Regions from separate parts of the Homo sapiens genome. Here regions 2 and 3 are each linked to region 1. The links come from fine-mapping of genetic effects on gene expression. A gene starts in region 1. Each other region holds a variant in brackets. All regions are shown on one strand. Distances are between the middles of the regions. Region 1 holds the start of THBS1 (thrombospondin 1). Region 2 overlaps LOC105370777 (a long non-coding RNA gene). Region 3 overlaps LOC105370777 (a long non-coding RNA gene).

Region 1 (5,228 bases):
GTGTGGTTCCAAAGACAAACCTCACATTCTGCAGCACCCCCTGTGGGCAGAGGACACACATTACTTGTAGAATGCAGAGCGGGGTGGGGATGGGGTTGGGGGAGACTGTCTGTATGCTAGGAAAAGCATACAATAGATGTTCTAAAAGCTTCAAAGAGCTGTCTTAAGATCACTATGTCAAAATAACACAGCAACATTAATCGCCAAACAACTTCAAAATCTTAATTGTGACTTCTGCCAAGTCTTGAGTATTTTACAAAGAATTCAGTTATCAGCCTACTTGGGTACACAGGAAATGGAATCTGATCCTAAGCCTAGAGGATATAATGACACTTTCCAGTGTCAAAGAGTTAAATGTGGGAGTTCAAAGCCACCGTTGCAAAGATCTAGAAGTTAAGGCACAGATGAAGCTGTAACAGCAACAACTAACTGCTATTTTAACCTTTTATGTGAGACCAGCTGCATCCCCATGAGGAATCCAATAGCAAAGTGGTACTGATTCTGCCCATAGAAAGTATCCATTTCAAACAAGATTAAAATTGGGGGAATGCATTTGAAATAAGCTCTTTTCTTAAGAGCCTAAGGAGTATCTAAGGCTTGAACAGGCTGACTGCTAAAGGAAAACCATTTCTTGTTTCCTTGAGTAGTTTTCAAAGTGTGCTTCCCAGACCACCGGCATCAGCATCACCTGGTACTTGTTAGAGTTGCAGTTTTACAGAATCCCAGACTCTGGGGCTGGGGTGCAGCAGGGTGAGCTTTCACAAGCCCTCCAGGTGATGCTCATGCTGCCTAAAATCTGAGAACTGCTGCGTTAGTTTACAGACAGGATTTCCTGTAGCCCTCCTGGCAGGTCACCTGTCTAGCAGATGATCCCACGGAGCAGGGCTCAGAGAAGAAGCCTCACCTGGAAATTGTCATTGACGCCCCCCTTTGCGATGCGGAGTCTGGCGATGCTGGCCAGGTCTCTGGTGAAGACGCTTTGGATGGGGACGTCCAACTCAGCATTCTCCATCTTTTCACAGTCGATGTACAGCTGGGCCCTGTCTTCCTGCACAAACAGGGTGATGCTCTTCCACTGGCCGGTTGCCAGGAGAGCTTCTTCCACAGACACCACGTGCTGCTTTCCTTGGACGGTCAGGCTGAGGTCCAGGGTGCCCGCCTTGCCATTGGACACCACGCTGAAGACCTGGCCAGAGTGGTCTTTCCGCTCCAGGGCCAGCAGCGTGCCCCGGGTCTTCTTCATCTGCCTCAGGGATGCCAGAAGGAGGAAACCCTTTTCTGCCCGCACAGCATCCACCAGGTCTTGGAACTTGTCATCAGGCACAGGGGGGATCAGGTTGGCATCCTCGATGCGGAAAGCTGGGCTGGAAGGGTCGGGGCCCTTCACCAGTCGGCGCCCAGACCCCTTGCGGGCGGCCCCGGTGAGTTCAAAGATGTCAAACACGCTGTTGTCTCCGCCAGACTCTGTTAGACAGGAGAGAACACAAAGTGAGCTTTCTAGGCTGGGACCAGCAGTAGGGGGCTGAGTCCTTAGGGGTGGAGACAAAGGGTTGGGGTGAAAACTCCTGGCAACCACTGAAAGAGGTGAATAAATACCAGGATCAGAGTGAAGCTGCGTCCTGATGTCCAGTCAGGCTCAAGAGGGAGAGGACAGCACGTGAGGGGGCACACCTGGGATAGCCAGCACCTCTTCCTTGTCCCTCCTTCCCCTAAAGGTGCCACACAAACTCACCTGGAATGCGGTTGGTGCCACACACATGCATCAGGAACAGGACGCCTAGTCCCCAGGCCAGCCCCATGGTGGAGCTGTTGGTGCCCAGCAGGGATCCTGTAGCAGGAAGCACAAGAGCCGAGGGTCAGAGATCAGCTAGGCAGGGAGGGACGGTGCGCAGAAACGGGGCTGGGCATGGGGACAGGGCCGGGACCATCCCTCTTTGACCCCGCGTTTGCTGAAATGAAGGACAACAGGATTACTTTCCAGAGAGCATGAGAGAGAGAGAGAGAGAGAGAGAGAGAGGTGGAGGAAAGAGATGCTGGTTTTAAAGTGTGGGGGGCGCAAGACCAACAATTTGGGGGCTTTTGGGAAGTCGAAGGTGAGCAAGATCAGGAACTGTAGTTTGGGGTTGCAGGGAGGGCAGGGGAAGTACAGACTCTTCCCTGGAGTGCTGATACAAAGGCTTAAGGAGGACTTCAGAGAGTAAGGAAATCTTGGGGTGTCCTGATGAGTTGGTTTGTGAACCTCAAGGCTGGAGAGGATGGCTCTGGAGCCTTGCCCTGAAGAGTCCTCCAGCGGCTGAGAGGAGCGGGCTGGGGTAGGCGAGCGGGGAGAGTGTAGGTTCCGGGGTCCACCAGAGGGACTGAAGCCTCAGCGCTCCAGGTGGATGTCCCGGGCAGCTTTGGTCCTCGGCGGCCGCCGGGGGCGACTTACCTGTGTGTACCGGAGCGCGGCGGCCGGGAGCGGTGGCGAGGGCGGCGAGGGCTGGAGGGGCGCGGGGAATGCCTGTGCGTCCGGAGTAGAGGTTGCTCCTGGAGAGCGACAGGAGCCCTGAACTCGCAGGCCAGCTCGGGCGCAGCGGCTGGCAAGGCGGAGGAGCCGCGCGCTTTTAAAGGGGCGCTCGCATTCCTGGGGATTCCTCCGGCCAATGGGCGGCGGCCGGGCAGGAAGCGGGAGGTGGGGGCCAGTCTGGGCTCCTCTCTCCGCCCCCCGCTGCCTGGCGCGCAACTTTCCAGCTAGAAAGTGAAGGGGGCGGGGGTCGGGGCTTGGGAGCACTAGAACTTCTCAGAAAAGTCGGTGCCCGCCCACGCAGCCTTGGCGCGCACGGGCTCGGCGCTCGTACTCTTGCGCCACGCGGGCTCGGGGTGATCAGCAAGCATCCCGAAAAGGGACGGGGCTGGGGAGACCACCTAGGAGGGCCCGCGGGGTGGCGCAGGGGCTTTCGGGCGAGCTGATCTCCCGGAATGCCTGGTTGATGGCGAGAGGTGGATACTAGAGACTGGGCCCGTTTTGTAAAAAGAAAAATGGGCCGACGGGGCGCAGGGGACACCAAGAGAGCCATTCGTTAAAGTACCTGCCCCTCGGGCCCTCGCTGACTCTCCTCCACCGTCCCCGTGGGGTGAGGACACGCGTCCCCCGAGCGCCTGTCCTGAGCTGGCCCCACGCCCGCCCCGGAGGGAGGTGAGCGCGGCGTCGGCGGGGCCGGCAGGTTGGTGCGCCGCGTTCGCCTTCGCTGCCTTCGGGCCCTTTCCTGCCGCGGCTGCCAGGGGGCCCACAGAGACGCCTCTCCCGCTGCCGCGGCGCTCCCTCGGCCGGCCGCTTGGGGGCGGTGTGCGTATTCTCATCAAGGGGCCCGGGGAGGACAGCTGCTTTCTACTCGAATTTTAAGGAAACTTACTCGTATCCAGTTTCCACAAGCCAAATTGAAATTGTGTCTTGAAAAACAGTTTTTGTGCCCACTCGTGCTTCTTAACGTGACTCCTGTTTGGAGAATTTGCAGAACCATCTGGCTCCAGAGTCTTCAGCTATTTACAGAGCAGACCCATAGAGTAATAAATTACTCTCTGCCTATTATTGTATTTCCCTTTTTCCTCCCTAAACGTTCTTTTCATTTTTCGGCTCCTGAACCCGAGGTGTGGGTTACATTTCTGTGGGTGCACACATTGCCATGAGTGCCGCTGCCTAGTGCTTCTGTCATTGAAGTCTGGTCTCCAAGCCACTGTCCCAAGCCAGCATGACTCTAGCTTCCTGGAATTCCATTCATCTCTTCGGGATGGGACGTCAGCCGCCTCGCTCCCTCTGCTGTGATCCAGCGCTATCGGGCTCGCTCCGAGGCCAGGGCATAGGTAGAAGCTTGACCAAATAAGGATCTCAGCACGGGCAGGGGGAAACCCCTGGGGTTCACCTCCCATCTTAGCACTTAAACCTGGCAGGACTCCCGACTGCTGCAAACAGCCAAGTGTTTACATTCATCAAACAGCAGTTTCGCTTTTCTTGCGTGGGAGTGTTGTATGACAAGATGGTGTGTGTGTGTGTGTGTGTGTGTGTGTATTACGGAAAGAGTGTTTTCTAGTTACTCAATATGTATATAAAATGCCTCTAAAAGATGACCGGTATGTTCCTAAGGCACATGTTTGTTGGATTTCAGATGTTGGGAGGCAGAAAGAAAAGTTTCTACTGGTTGATGAATAAAATCAGATTCTTGTCCCGCAAATCATAGGTAATGATTCATCCAAGCAGATCTGAAGATTCTGGAATCGGCACCCATCCATCTCCCTCCCCTTCCTTCTCCTTCTACAGCATTCATCTTGCTCTTCGAAAAGTAATTGGGTTTTTTTTTTCTTCTTTCCACTTGCTCCATGATACTGGACAGTCAGAAATAGTTCTTGGAGGGATGGGCCGCTCATGGCTCTGGGCTCCTCTGGCCCACTGGATCATTGTGTACAAATCAGATGGGGGCTTGAGGGCTGCAAGAGGCCCACAAAAGCAGAATGCATCTTGTATGAAAAGATTATCTCCCCTAGGCTTAGCTGTGCAGACAGAGTAGAAACCAGCACTCACTGCCCCTTCAGGATTCATGCTGCCATGGCTGAGGGATTGTAGGAATGCCTCTGCAGATTTCTTGGAACTTGGCTTCTTTCAACAAAACAAGGACAACAGTTTCCAAACTTCATCATGCTTTACCAATAAGAAGGTGACCTATACGGTGGCAGGAAAGAGCTTTCTTATTAGAGAAAGCTGACAGGTATAGGAGCTGCTTATCTCAAACACAAAGCCCTTCCTCTTATCATGATACTTCAGTTGTTCTGGGTGGAAAGGAAAGGTCATAGAAGAGGGAGTGTCTGCGCCCCTTAACAGGAATTCACCCACATTCTTGCCAGCCAACATGTGCTGCAAATATTCCCCAAACCTCATATACCTCTGTGCAGCTTTGAGAGAAGCAGGGATGGGAAAAGGGAAAAGAAAACCTATCCCCTTTAATGTGAGGGCAATAGTCCATTTTGAGTGTGTCTCTACAACCTGGAAGCACTGTGATTTTAAGGCAATCAATTAACATGGGCCGAAGTGATGGACCTTTCAGGGAGCTGGTCCAGTTCTCTTTTTTGCCAAGTTGTCATCCTTGAGGATTAGTTACTGAAAATTGTAAGGCATATGGCATTTCACCGTAGGATTTCCTTTTTCTAAGTTTCTCTAATTGGAGGTGGGATTGACCTAAATACATTGGCAGTAAGTG
Region 2 (5,228 bases), 270 kb after region 1:
AAGAGAATTCTGGTTTAAGTGAGCTGGACCAAACACTGAGAAGCATTGTCATAGGGATCTCTGGCTCCTAGTTAAAAGGCATTGCCTCAGACTGCCTTAGAGCTCCAATGTTTCTGTATATATTTTCAAAATTAATTATTATCTTTCTCAATTTCACTCTATAAAGAAAACTCAAGTTCCCCATCAAATGAATTAGCCATTTTGGAGCAAAAATCAAAAGAAAGGAAAGAAGATTTTTGTTTTGACTGAGCCAGTTTGGCTGGCTTCCTATCCTGGCATCATCAGTTGAGTATTAAATTTCCAAGTCACTGGGTGACAGTATGCCTGGCTTCATCCCAGTATGGGCATTCATCAGCTGCATTGTACAGTAAGTACAGTAAGAACTGTCTTGTAAGAACGGGCTAGACTTAGTGAGACAATCCTGGTTTGTTCTGAAGAGCATAATCAAATGAGTGATTGCAAATGGAAATTGAGATCAGAGCCAGAAAAGGGGTCTTGAGCAGCAGATTTGTGATCAAGGCAATGCTGCCCAAAGAGGGCAAATTGAGCTCTCAGGAGGACTAACATTCAGGAAAACGTTAGGTAATGGGGCTTGAGTTGGATGAAGGCAAGCAGTTCAGGATGGAGGCTGTGATAAAGATGTTAGTCTTATCAAATACTGGCCAGTTTAAACACATTAGACTTGACTGGACAAAAAATGTTCTACATGGACATTCACTGATGAACCCTTATTACATAGAAGTCCAAGAAATAAAAGTTCATGGATGGTAAAATATGTCCATCTTATTTCTGATGATCATTTTTTGACAGTGAATTTACATAGAAATGATGAATAGCTCTATGTAGTTTTCATTGGTAATATTCTTTATTAGGGTATTATCTAGTTCAGTGGTTGGAAAACTTTACATAGACAGGGTAGAAAATTTTAGACTTTGTGACCTATCATACTGTCTCCATTATAAATTCATTTTTAATAATCCTTTAATAATGTAAAAATTCTTAGCTTTCAGGAAGTACAAAAACAAGGCAAGAACTGGATTTGGCCCTAAAGCTATGGTTTGCTGACCCTCTTATAGATTATCTCAACAGTAGAGTTATTTTCTATTTACATAGTATTTGGTGTTCTCTGATAGGAAATATAGGTCAGTGGAAGAACAGCTATATTTATTTAAGTTTCTCATGGAGGATATATCCCCTTCCTTATTTACTGAAAGGAGGGCTTAATACCATAAGCATGAGAAGTGGTGTTTTCTAAGCCTGAGTCCTCCTGTAGCCATCTAATATTAAAACCTGTAAGGAAAGAGTTGGATTTCAACTTGGTTTCTTTTGATCTATAAATTCAGGTATGATGGTGGTCTGGCCCTTTTGGGCTCTAAATTTAGCAATTAGCTTACTTTTGTTTATGTTTAACTACAATAAGCACCTTCTGGATTATCTGGATCTGGATTATCGGGATCATTATTTTATTGCCTGTGTACTAAAATGAGATTTAAGTCCAAGTAGACATTTGAACATAAGATTATTTGGGTTCCAGTAGGACTGCTTTAACTGTTTCCACATAATGAGACTAAAACAAACATAAACTTCATAATGGCCAAATGATGCCAACAGACAGTTTGGAAGGACTTTATCAGAGAAAACATTGATTGGATATTGAGTCATTGCATAACACATGGTCTATATAGTACAAAACTAGATAGATCTTGTAACATAGCTGTCAGCTCCTTATCCTCCCTGGAGCAGAAGAGGTTCAATTTTAGTCAAACAGTATGTTGGTCACATTTGATTAATGCTTTTAATTTGAATTTCAGTGATGGCACATTTAATTTGTAAATATGCATAAAGCTTGTTCAGTTATGAATATATGTGTGTGTATGCAGTTTAAGTTACCTCTAGGAGTGTTAGGAGATGGTCATAGTGGTCAACGTATAAATAAGGGCCAAGAACAAGGTGGTTGCAGTTAAGGTGGTTAAAGCAGGTCTGTGGTGATCCACAGGAGGCCATTCAGTGTCGTAGAGAGACGCCCCTTCCTAAGGCAGGTGCAGCCTGGAGCCAGGGCTCAAGGCCTTGCCAGCAGTGATTGGCTGGGTTTTAGCCTTGTTCACCCCCTCAGCTGAGCACTGTTGTTCAGGGGTATGTTCCTGTCCTAAGTAAGAGGGGGTGTGATTTAAGAGATAATATAGGGTAATAATCTTTGGGACTTAGTCAATTAAGTCTGGAGATGAAGAATTATTTCCTAACTTCCTCATTGACTGTTTTAAAACAATCCTCACTAAGCCACGTGGCTTTGGTGATGATTGTTTTAAAACAATATCTGATTTACTGAATCTTTCAGAAAAATTGAAATAACTGATATGAATTTTTCACAAGCTTTGATACAGTTAAGAAAAACAAAATGTAAGAAAAGAATATTGAAAGGGCTAAGCAACAGCAGCAATAGACTTGGGCAGGAGGTATGCGCACTACAAACTCGAGACCTGTGGACTTAGGCACTTCCTCTTTGCCATAGGTGTGCTTATTGGGGGTGTCATGGGCATGAGTCCACAGTGCCCTCTACTGCCTCCCAGTAGGTCTGTTCTAACATGCAACAGCTTGGTGGTCTCTTGTCCCCAGAATGAAGCAACTTTTTAAAAAAATTTATAATTATTTTATTTTATACTTTAAGTTCTGGGGTGCATGTGCAGAACATGCAGGTTTGTTACATAGGTATACACGAGCCATGGAGGTTTGCTGCACCCATCAACCCATCATCTACATTAGGTATTTCTCCTAATGCTGTCCCTCCGCTAGCCCCTCACCCTGGTGTGTGATGTTCCCCTCCCTGTGTCCATATGTTCTCATTGTTCAACTCCTACTTATGAGTGAGAACATGCAGTTTCTGGTTTTCTGTTCTGTTAGTTTGCTGAGGATGATGGTTCCAGCTTCATCCATGTCCCTGCAAAGGACATGAACTCATCCTTTTTTTATGGCTGCTTAGTATTCCATGATATATATGTGCCATATTTTCTTTATCCAGTCTATCATCGATGGGCATTTGGGTTGGTTCCAAGTCTTTGCTATTGTGAATAGTGCCGCA[G/A]TAAACATACATGTGCATGTGTCTTTATAGTAGAATGATTTGTAATCCTTTGGGTATATATCCAGTAATGGGATTGCTGAGTCAAATAGTATTTCTGGTTCTAGATCCTTGAAGAATCGCCACACTGTCTTCCACAATGGTTAAACTAATTTACACTCCCACCAACAGTGTAAAAGCATTCCTATTTCTCCATATCCTCTTGGCTAAAATCAAGTGTAGTATCTGTTCTTATCAGTTTAATGGAGCAACTTTTAAAGGGAGTTTCCTTCTAGGTGGACCCGTCACTATGGTGCAGAGAAGCAGGGAATGACTGGGTGGAACTGCAGGGCTGCTTCAGTGGGCAGGGAGAGTGCATCAGGGGAACCATGCAGAATGCTGGGCTACTCATCTGCCTCTCCATTTCACAGGAGAAACAGAGAGCTGTTGGTTTGATTGACTTAAATGGATTTTTATTTATTTAATTTATAGTAAGTGCCGCGTATTGCTAGGCCTTGCAAAGTCAAGGGTATCAGGAATATAAGAGGACTGAAAGCAATATTCCTCGTGCTTCCAGAGCAGATGCCTAACCGGGGAGGCAGAGCTCAAGTGTGGTACACTGAGAACGCCTAGGATGCAAACACAGGTGGATTTGTTTATTACTAAAGCGGCACAGGGAAACTTCTCAGAGTGAGAACATATTTTGTCAGTAGGAGGAGCGCCACATAAGATGAAATCAGACTGCACACATGCATGAGGGTTTTCTGTTTAACTTGGGGGTGAAGATGAACTTTCAAAGGGGCCTTAGAGGCAGGTATATTACATCCATATTTTTGAGTATGAAGAAGAAGGGGCAAGCAATACTTAGTGGAAACAAGACAAAATTCAGAGATAAGAGTGCAAGTGGAGTTCAAACATAGTAAGAAGAGAGGTTAATGGTATCTATCTCCCAGCAGGCAGAACACCACCACACTCCTGGGAAATGTTTCCCCAGGCACCGGAGTATGGAGGTGTGCTCTCCCCATTAGTAGGGGGTTCTTAGTATTGAGCCAGGCTTTTGCTTGCTTGAGGCCTGATTACTGTAATACTTGGTCTAATTCTTTTCGACTTGGGCCACAGGCTTAGGCATTGCTGAGCAGCTGCTGTGTGTTTTTGTCCTCTAGCAATGGTGAGCACTTTAGCCTTGATATACTGGAGCCTAAAAACATATGGCAACAGCTCTCAATCAATGTCCTGGAGCTCTCAATCAAGTTGATGTTTTGTTTGGTTGTGTTAAAAATGGATTTGGCCGGCACTATGGTTCACACCTGTAATCCCAGCACTTTGGGAGGCCGAGGTGGGTGGGTCATGAGGTCAGGAGATCGAGCCCAGCCTGGCCAACATGGTAAAACCCCGTCTCTACTCAAAATACAAAAATTAGCTGGGTGTGGTGGCGGGCGCCTGTAATCCCAGCTACTTGGGAGGTTGAGGCAGGAGAATCATTTGAACCTGGGAGGTGGAGGTGGTTGTAGTGAGCCGAGATTGTGACATTGCACTCCGGCCTGGGCAACAGGGCGAGACTCCATCTCAAAACAAAATAAATAAAAAAGGATTTAAGGATAGTTTTCATGGCATCCTTTCCCCATAATTGCAGATATTAAATGCAGCCTAAGAACAAGTGTTAAAACATCCTCAGAGACAGTTTAGTAGTGAAACACCCAAGTCTTTCTGACATTAATAGGCTTTAGTGGGATTAGCTTAGTAATAGTTACATAATGTGTGATTCGTGGCAATGAAAATGCTAAAAGGGCCAATTATTGCATCATAATGGACACACCTTTAACATAAAGATACATTTGTCATTTTGTGGTGTTCATCTATATTTAAATGAAGGATACGAATCATCATTGTAATGGCAACTTTAGCTGTCAGGGATCCTGTTGCAGCTCTGCCTCAGCCAGTCTGTGCACAGAGCATGGAGCACCAGGGCCATGGAGCATGTGGGCTATGGAATCGGGTTGCCTATTTTCATCTTGACTCCATCACTTGCTGGGCAACCTTGAGTAAGTGGCTTAACCATTTTCTGAGCCTCAATTTCTTCACCTATAAAGTGGGGGTCATACTAGTGTGTCCCTGTAATTATGGGGATTAATGGAGATAACATGTGAATCACACATAGCAATGTTAGGCATAAAGT
Region 3 (5,228 bases), 250 kb after region 1:
CAGCTACTTGGGAGGCTGAGGTGGTAGGATCGTCTGAGGCTGGGAGGCGGAAGTTGCAGTGCTTCGTGAATGTACCACTGCATTCCAGTCTTGGTGACAAAGCGAGACCCTGTCTCAGATAACAAGAAGCAGCATGAGACCCTCACTAGATACAGCTGTCCAATCTTAGACATTTTAGCCAGCAGAACTGTGAGCCAAACAAACCTTTTTTTTTTAAATAAATTACTCAGCCTCAGATATTCTGTTGTAGCAACACAAAATGGACTAATACAGGGTATGTTAATGGACTATTAGATGTCTGCTAGACTGTAAGCCACATAAAATCAGAGAGAGAGTTTTCTAATTGTCTTTTCAAAGCTGTGTTCCAAGAACCAAGCATAGAAGCAAACACACCATAGGTGTTCAGAAAATGCTTCTGGAATAAATGAATGAAATAATTTCTTCATAGAACTTTGTTACGGACTTAGCCATTATACATCCATCATATACCTCAGTCTTCATAGCATAACAAATGAAGAAATGGAAGCTCACAGAGAGGAAGTGACTATCCAAGGCCAAATATCTAGTTAATCCCAGGACACAGATCAGCAAGCACAGAGTTTCAGTCTGTTGCCTTTTTTTCATCCCATCTTCCATCCACAGTAACCATATTTACATCCACAGATGCTAAGGAAAGAAAAGCAAGATTTTGTGCCTTTGCTTCTAACCTATTAATCTCGACTAGAATGAGTTGCATATTAATACAGTTTACATGTGAAATAAGTTCTGAATGGGCCATATGCTTTGCTGGGGATTCATGGGAAACCTGTTTTGGAAATCAAATGGCAGGAGAGACATGTAACTGTCATTTGATCTGTACCTTATGAAGTTAAGAAAGTCATCCTGCAAGAAGCAAACTTGAACTGGTTTTTTTTAGAATGGGATATATTTCGTTTGGAGAATAGGGTCTTGGAATACGATACTGGGTATAGCGAAGCTCACAGTCAGCAAAGGGTACAGTGTGTTACTGGGTGGTCATAGCCAGACTGAGGCACAGGTTGAGTAAAGCTGAAAGGGCTTTCGGGAGCTTGGGAACAACAGGGCAGGTGGATAAGCAAACCCAGAGATTATTTTTGATAGTTGGTGCTTATATTTCTTTTATTTGAATTAAAATATGATGCAGGTAAATATAAACTCCATTTTTAAAATGTTTCTGTAGAACAGCTTCCCACACACACACAGGTTTATCCCAGCCCAGTCAACGACAAACTCTTTTCCACACAGACCTTTCAAAACTCAGCGCCGTGATGGAATGACTGAAAAGGACTCTTCTGGGTGGCCATTGCTGTTTGTTTCTGGTTTTATAAATCTATGATTCTGTGCTATATGTCTTTTCACTGTCTTTCACAAGTAGGCATATCCCAAGAAGTCCTGGTTGTCACATTAACCGTCACGGTGGCATTCACTGTGCCTGGCATAGAACCTGTCTGGATGGGCAGGTTTAGGTGATGGAAGAAACACTCATACTATCCTTGAGTGAGGTTTGGATGAGTTGAGGTTTCATGGAATAAAAACTTTGCCAACTTCTTCTCCAAGAAAATAACATCAATCTAAGAATTCAATTGGAGGAGGGCAATTTATTTTTCAAAAGTTGCTTTGTGCTTGCAAGTTATTCTTTTGAAGATGGAGTGACTCTATTTTTGATAAGCAATGCTGGAGAATGAACGAATACAAGGAATAGGGATTCTGGGTCCTCAGAAAAGAAGGCTATATCTTCTCTACTCTTCTCACTTTCAAAGTCTTGTGGGCCAAGATTAGGTTGACCTCAACCAACTGGCACTGTAGCCCTATTGGAGGAATGCACAAGCCCTGTGTCACTTGTCACTGCTTGTCCTAAGTCAAGAGTCATGCTCCCAGGAAGCCGGAGTGCAGTCCGGCCTCCAGAAAGGCCTTCCCAAGACAGCACAGGTGAGGATGCCTGGGACTGGTGCCATCTGAGCTATCACACAGGCTTGCTTTAGTTCTAAGACTAACTCAAATGCTGAGTACAGCCCTGGACCCTGAGAGTCTGAGGGACTGAGTTAAGGGGACCGTATGCAGTCCCTTTCCTAGGAGGAACTACTCTTATAGTTTACCCTAAGAATAATAGGTGAAATAAATGCATAAAAAGGTAGCTTGCCAGATCCTCAAAACATGTAGGATTTTCCAAGGAGGAGCACTTGAAAAGAAGATATAGTTGAACTTTGGGAGAGAAGTATGAAAAGAGAAGCAGGTCTTTGCAATGCTGTGGAAATGTTTCCAGCAGCCAGAGTTGCTCTGTGCTTATGGGCATCATGTTATGTGTTCACAAGGGAAGTTACCTTTCCTGTGAATGTTGGTCTTGACTTGTCCTTTTGGACGAAGGGGTGGGTTCTGGAGGGGAGCAGAGGATGGAAGTAGAAGATCTTACCATATTTTAAAGGGAATTTTTAATATTTGATTTTAAACAAAATGCATAGAAAGTTAACCAACTGCACAGATGAAAAGGGGAAATCCCTATGTCCAAGTTTTGTCACTGTGGTATTGAGCAAAGTCAAATTTCTGCAATTTCAAGGG[G/T]GTATGTACAAAGCTCTTCTCTCTATGTATGGGACAAAAGCTGCTTCTGCCTAAACCGTTTTGAGTTGCTTCATAATTTTCACATATACCCCTCTCTCCCCATCAGATACAAGCTGCAGCACCACATGGTTGGGCAATGACCTTTTCACACTTTCGAGTCACGTTGGACATTTTGCAATTACAAATTTAATAGATAACATGTGCGTCAAAATCAGCTTTGAGCCTTCCTGTTTGACGGAGTTTTTGGACAAAGAGCTGTTCTTCTGAACTCGTAACATGCAAAGTATGCAGGTAGCATGTAAAGTTATTTTCACCTTATTTATTTTCAAAGACTGTATTTTTTTAAAAGAATCAAGTTAAAAAAATACATTCTGTCACTCTTACCTCATGCCAAAGCACTGCAGACTTTACAGTGTAATCTGCATTTGGGCACAGACAAAGCTTGAGAGGTTGAGCTCAAAGGGAAAAAAAGGTTTGTGAGAGTTATGAGCAGATGGAGGGAGGGCTTTATTTTTAATTAGGAGCTCATTTAGAATGGAAATCTGTATGTAATCTGAACTACTGTGTGTACGGTGGTGGACATTAACTGGGAGAACAATGAGAACTTCTGTTGAAGCTTTATCTGAACTGCAGCTCTGTTTTCCATACCTCAGTTGTCCAGGTAACGATATTGTCAAATCCAGTGACTTGATCATAAGGAGACTCTCAGATGGGGCATAGGAAAAACGTACACAATGCCTGATGATGGGGAAGTGAGGAGAGAGAGCCTGTGAGAAGGAATGAATCGCTGTTGCAAGCTGAGATGCTTTTCTTCCCCCTTTATTAGACACTTCTTTCCAAGTCTGGAGTAAGTTTCTAGAATTCTCTTTGTCTTTTCCCTCTGCGCTTTCCTAGTTCTTTGTCATCTTAACAGCTTTTGGAGGAACCAGTCAAATATTTAAACTGAGACATGGTTCTTCTTCCTTTCCCTTCCACAGGAACAAGTTGCATCTGGTAGCCATGTCATAAACCAGTGTAAACACATCTCCTTTTCTGTCTTAAAATTCACATAACTTTCTTGACCTACTTTACATACAATAACATTAGAGCCAAAAATGTACTTTGCCTCATCAGATAGGGGCTTTGCTTGCCTGGTCCTACCTCTTTTCTGTCTATCAGTATCTCTTGGCAGAGGTACTTCCATTACAACCCAGTGTCCTGGGGCTGGAGATAAAAACACCCAACATGTAGCAGTAATGGATGAGCTAAGTCTGACAGAGAGATTAGCTCATCAATTTGGGGGTTTGGGTGACGATGGTAAAAATATAGCTGTGCTTTCCTCAATCTCATTCTCTTGTGAGCACTTCTCTTCTCCTGAAACACTTGAGTTCTTTCTAAATAATGTGGCACGTGAGAAGAGAGCATGATACGACACCATTTGAGAGAAATCCATCAAGGTACAGGCAGACCTTGAGAAGAGTTCAAAAAGTATAATTTCTGGGTAGTGATTGTAAGTTTTTAAATAAATTTTTTTTTTTTCCAAAAGAGCTTCAAAGGAGATGGCAATATTTTTAACTGAATTTGATCTAATTCTTTCTTGAAGCTTACAGAAGAAATTCAGTGTGGAGTCCAGGAAAAGAGAGGTTTGCCCCTCTGTTGGGGAACGAGGTACATAGGACATAGGATGGCAGCCTTTGATGGAGCTTAAGAATGGCACCAATGAGATGCAAAGGGGAACGGGAGAGGCATGGAAATGTCAAAGAGAAAACCAAGACTATACATGCTTTTAAAAATTACTTATGGGCCGGGCGTGGTGGCTCACGCCTGTAATCCCAGCAATTTAGGGAGGCCATGGCAGGTAGATGACCTGAGGTCAGGAGTTCGAGACCAGCCTGGCCAACATGGTGAAACCTCATCTGTACTAAAAATACAAAAAAAAAAAAAAAATTAGCTGGGCATGGTGGTGGGTGTCTGTAATCCCGGCTATTTGGGAGGCTGAGGCAGGAGAATTACTTGAACCCGGGAGGCCAAGGTTGCATTGAGCCGAGATTGCACCACTGCACTCCAGCCTGGGGGACAAGAGCAAGACTCTGTCTCAACAAAACAAAACAAAACAAAAAAAAGTTTTTTAAAAAGCATTTTTTTCCCATTATAAAAATGTAATATAAAAAACATTTTTTGTATTATTGTCCATGGATTGGGGCCAATTAACTTATGATAGGTAGAATTAAGTGTAGTAAAGAAAGCGCCAGTGGAAAAAAAGAACCCTTGGGAAGGAGGGGAAGACTGAAAATACATTCATCCATTAATAAATCCTTCTGCTTATGAAATTTTAAAAAAAATTCACACATTATTACTCTCTTTGCACAACTCAGACATAGTTATTATTCCTTGTGGTATGTAAGAAAGGTGGGTCTGAAAAAGGTATTCCAGATGTGAAATTCAGATTGTGTTGGCTGATAATTCAGCTGAAGGCATTTACTCTCTGTAGTTTTCCAAGCCGTTCTCCTGGAAGGACACACCTGAGGGTGGGCAGATGCCAAGTGTGAGGTGAGAGGAATATGGAAACCCAGGCTGGTTCGTCGAGAGAAAAACAGTCTCCTTTAGAGTTCTGTTTGAGCATATTCATAAGGGCAGTCCTGCCCACCTTGGAGGAAATCTTGGGAAGATAAAGT

Evidence for each region. PIP is the estimated chance that this variant, and not a neighbour inherited with it, causes the effect. A credible set is the group of variants that fine-mapping cannot tell apart.
Region 2: its variant is the best candidate, but not a certain one, in a credible set for the expression of THBS1 in blood mononuclear cells (TOPMed, PIP 0.75).
Region 3: its variant is the best candidate, but not a certain one, in a credible set for the expression of THBS1 in whole blood (INTERVAL, PIP 0.82).

The regions. Positions count from the first base shown.
Region 1 is chr15:39,578,429-39,583,656 of GRCh38, reverse strand. THBS1 (thrombospondin 1) reads right to left here and starts at 2,578. Exons shown (of 22, transcript NM_003246.4): 1 at 2,429-2,578; 2 at 1,733-1,828; 3 at 905-1,464; 4 at 1-40. The coding sequence starts at 1,799. LOC124903470 reads right to left here and starts at 3,850. Exons shown (of 1, transcript XM_047433405.1): 1 at 2,663-3,850. The coding sequence starts at 3,339. The coding sequence ends at 2,905. RefSeq lists silencers at 3,038-3,087, 3,098-3,327 and an enhancer at 2,750-3,487.
Region 2 is chr15:39,310,483-39,315,710 of GRCh38, reverse strand. All of the region lies in intron 1 of LOC105370777 (a long non-coding RNA gene), which reads left to right. Among named protein-coding and RNA genes, the nearest start is that of LINC02915, 62 kb to the right of the region's middle. The variant G/A (reference allele first, on the strand shown) is at 3,077.
Region 3 is chr15:39,324,602-39,329,829 of GRCh38, reverse strand. The region is part of intron 1 of LOC105370777 (a long non-coding RNA gene); the gene reads left to right. Among named protein-coding and RNA genes, the nearest start is that of LINC02915, 77 kb to the right of the region's middle. The variant G/T (reference allele first, on the strand shown) is at 2,575.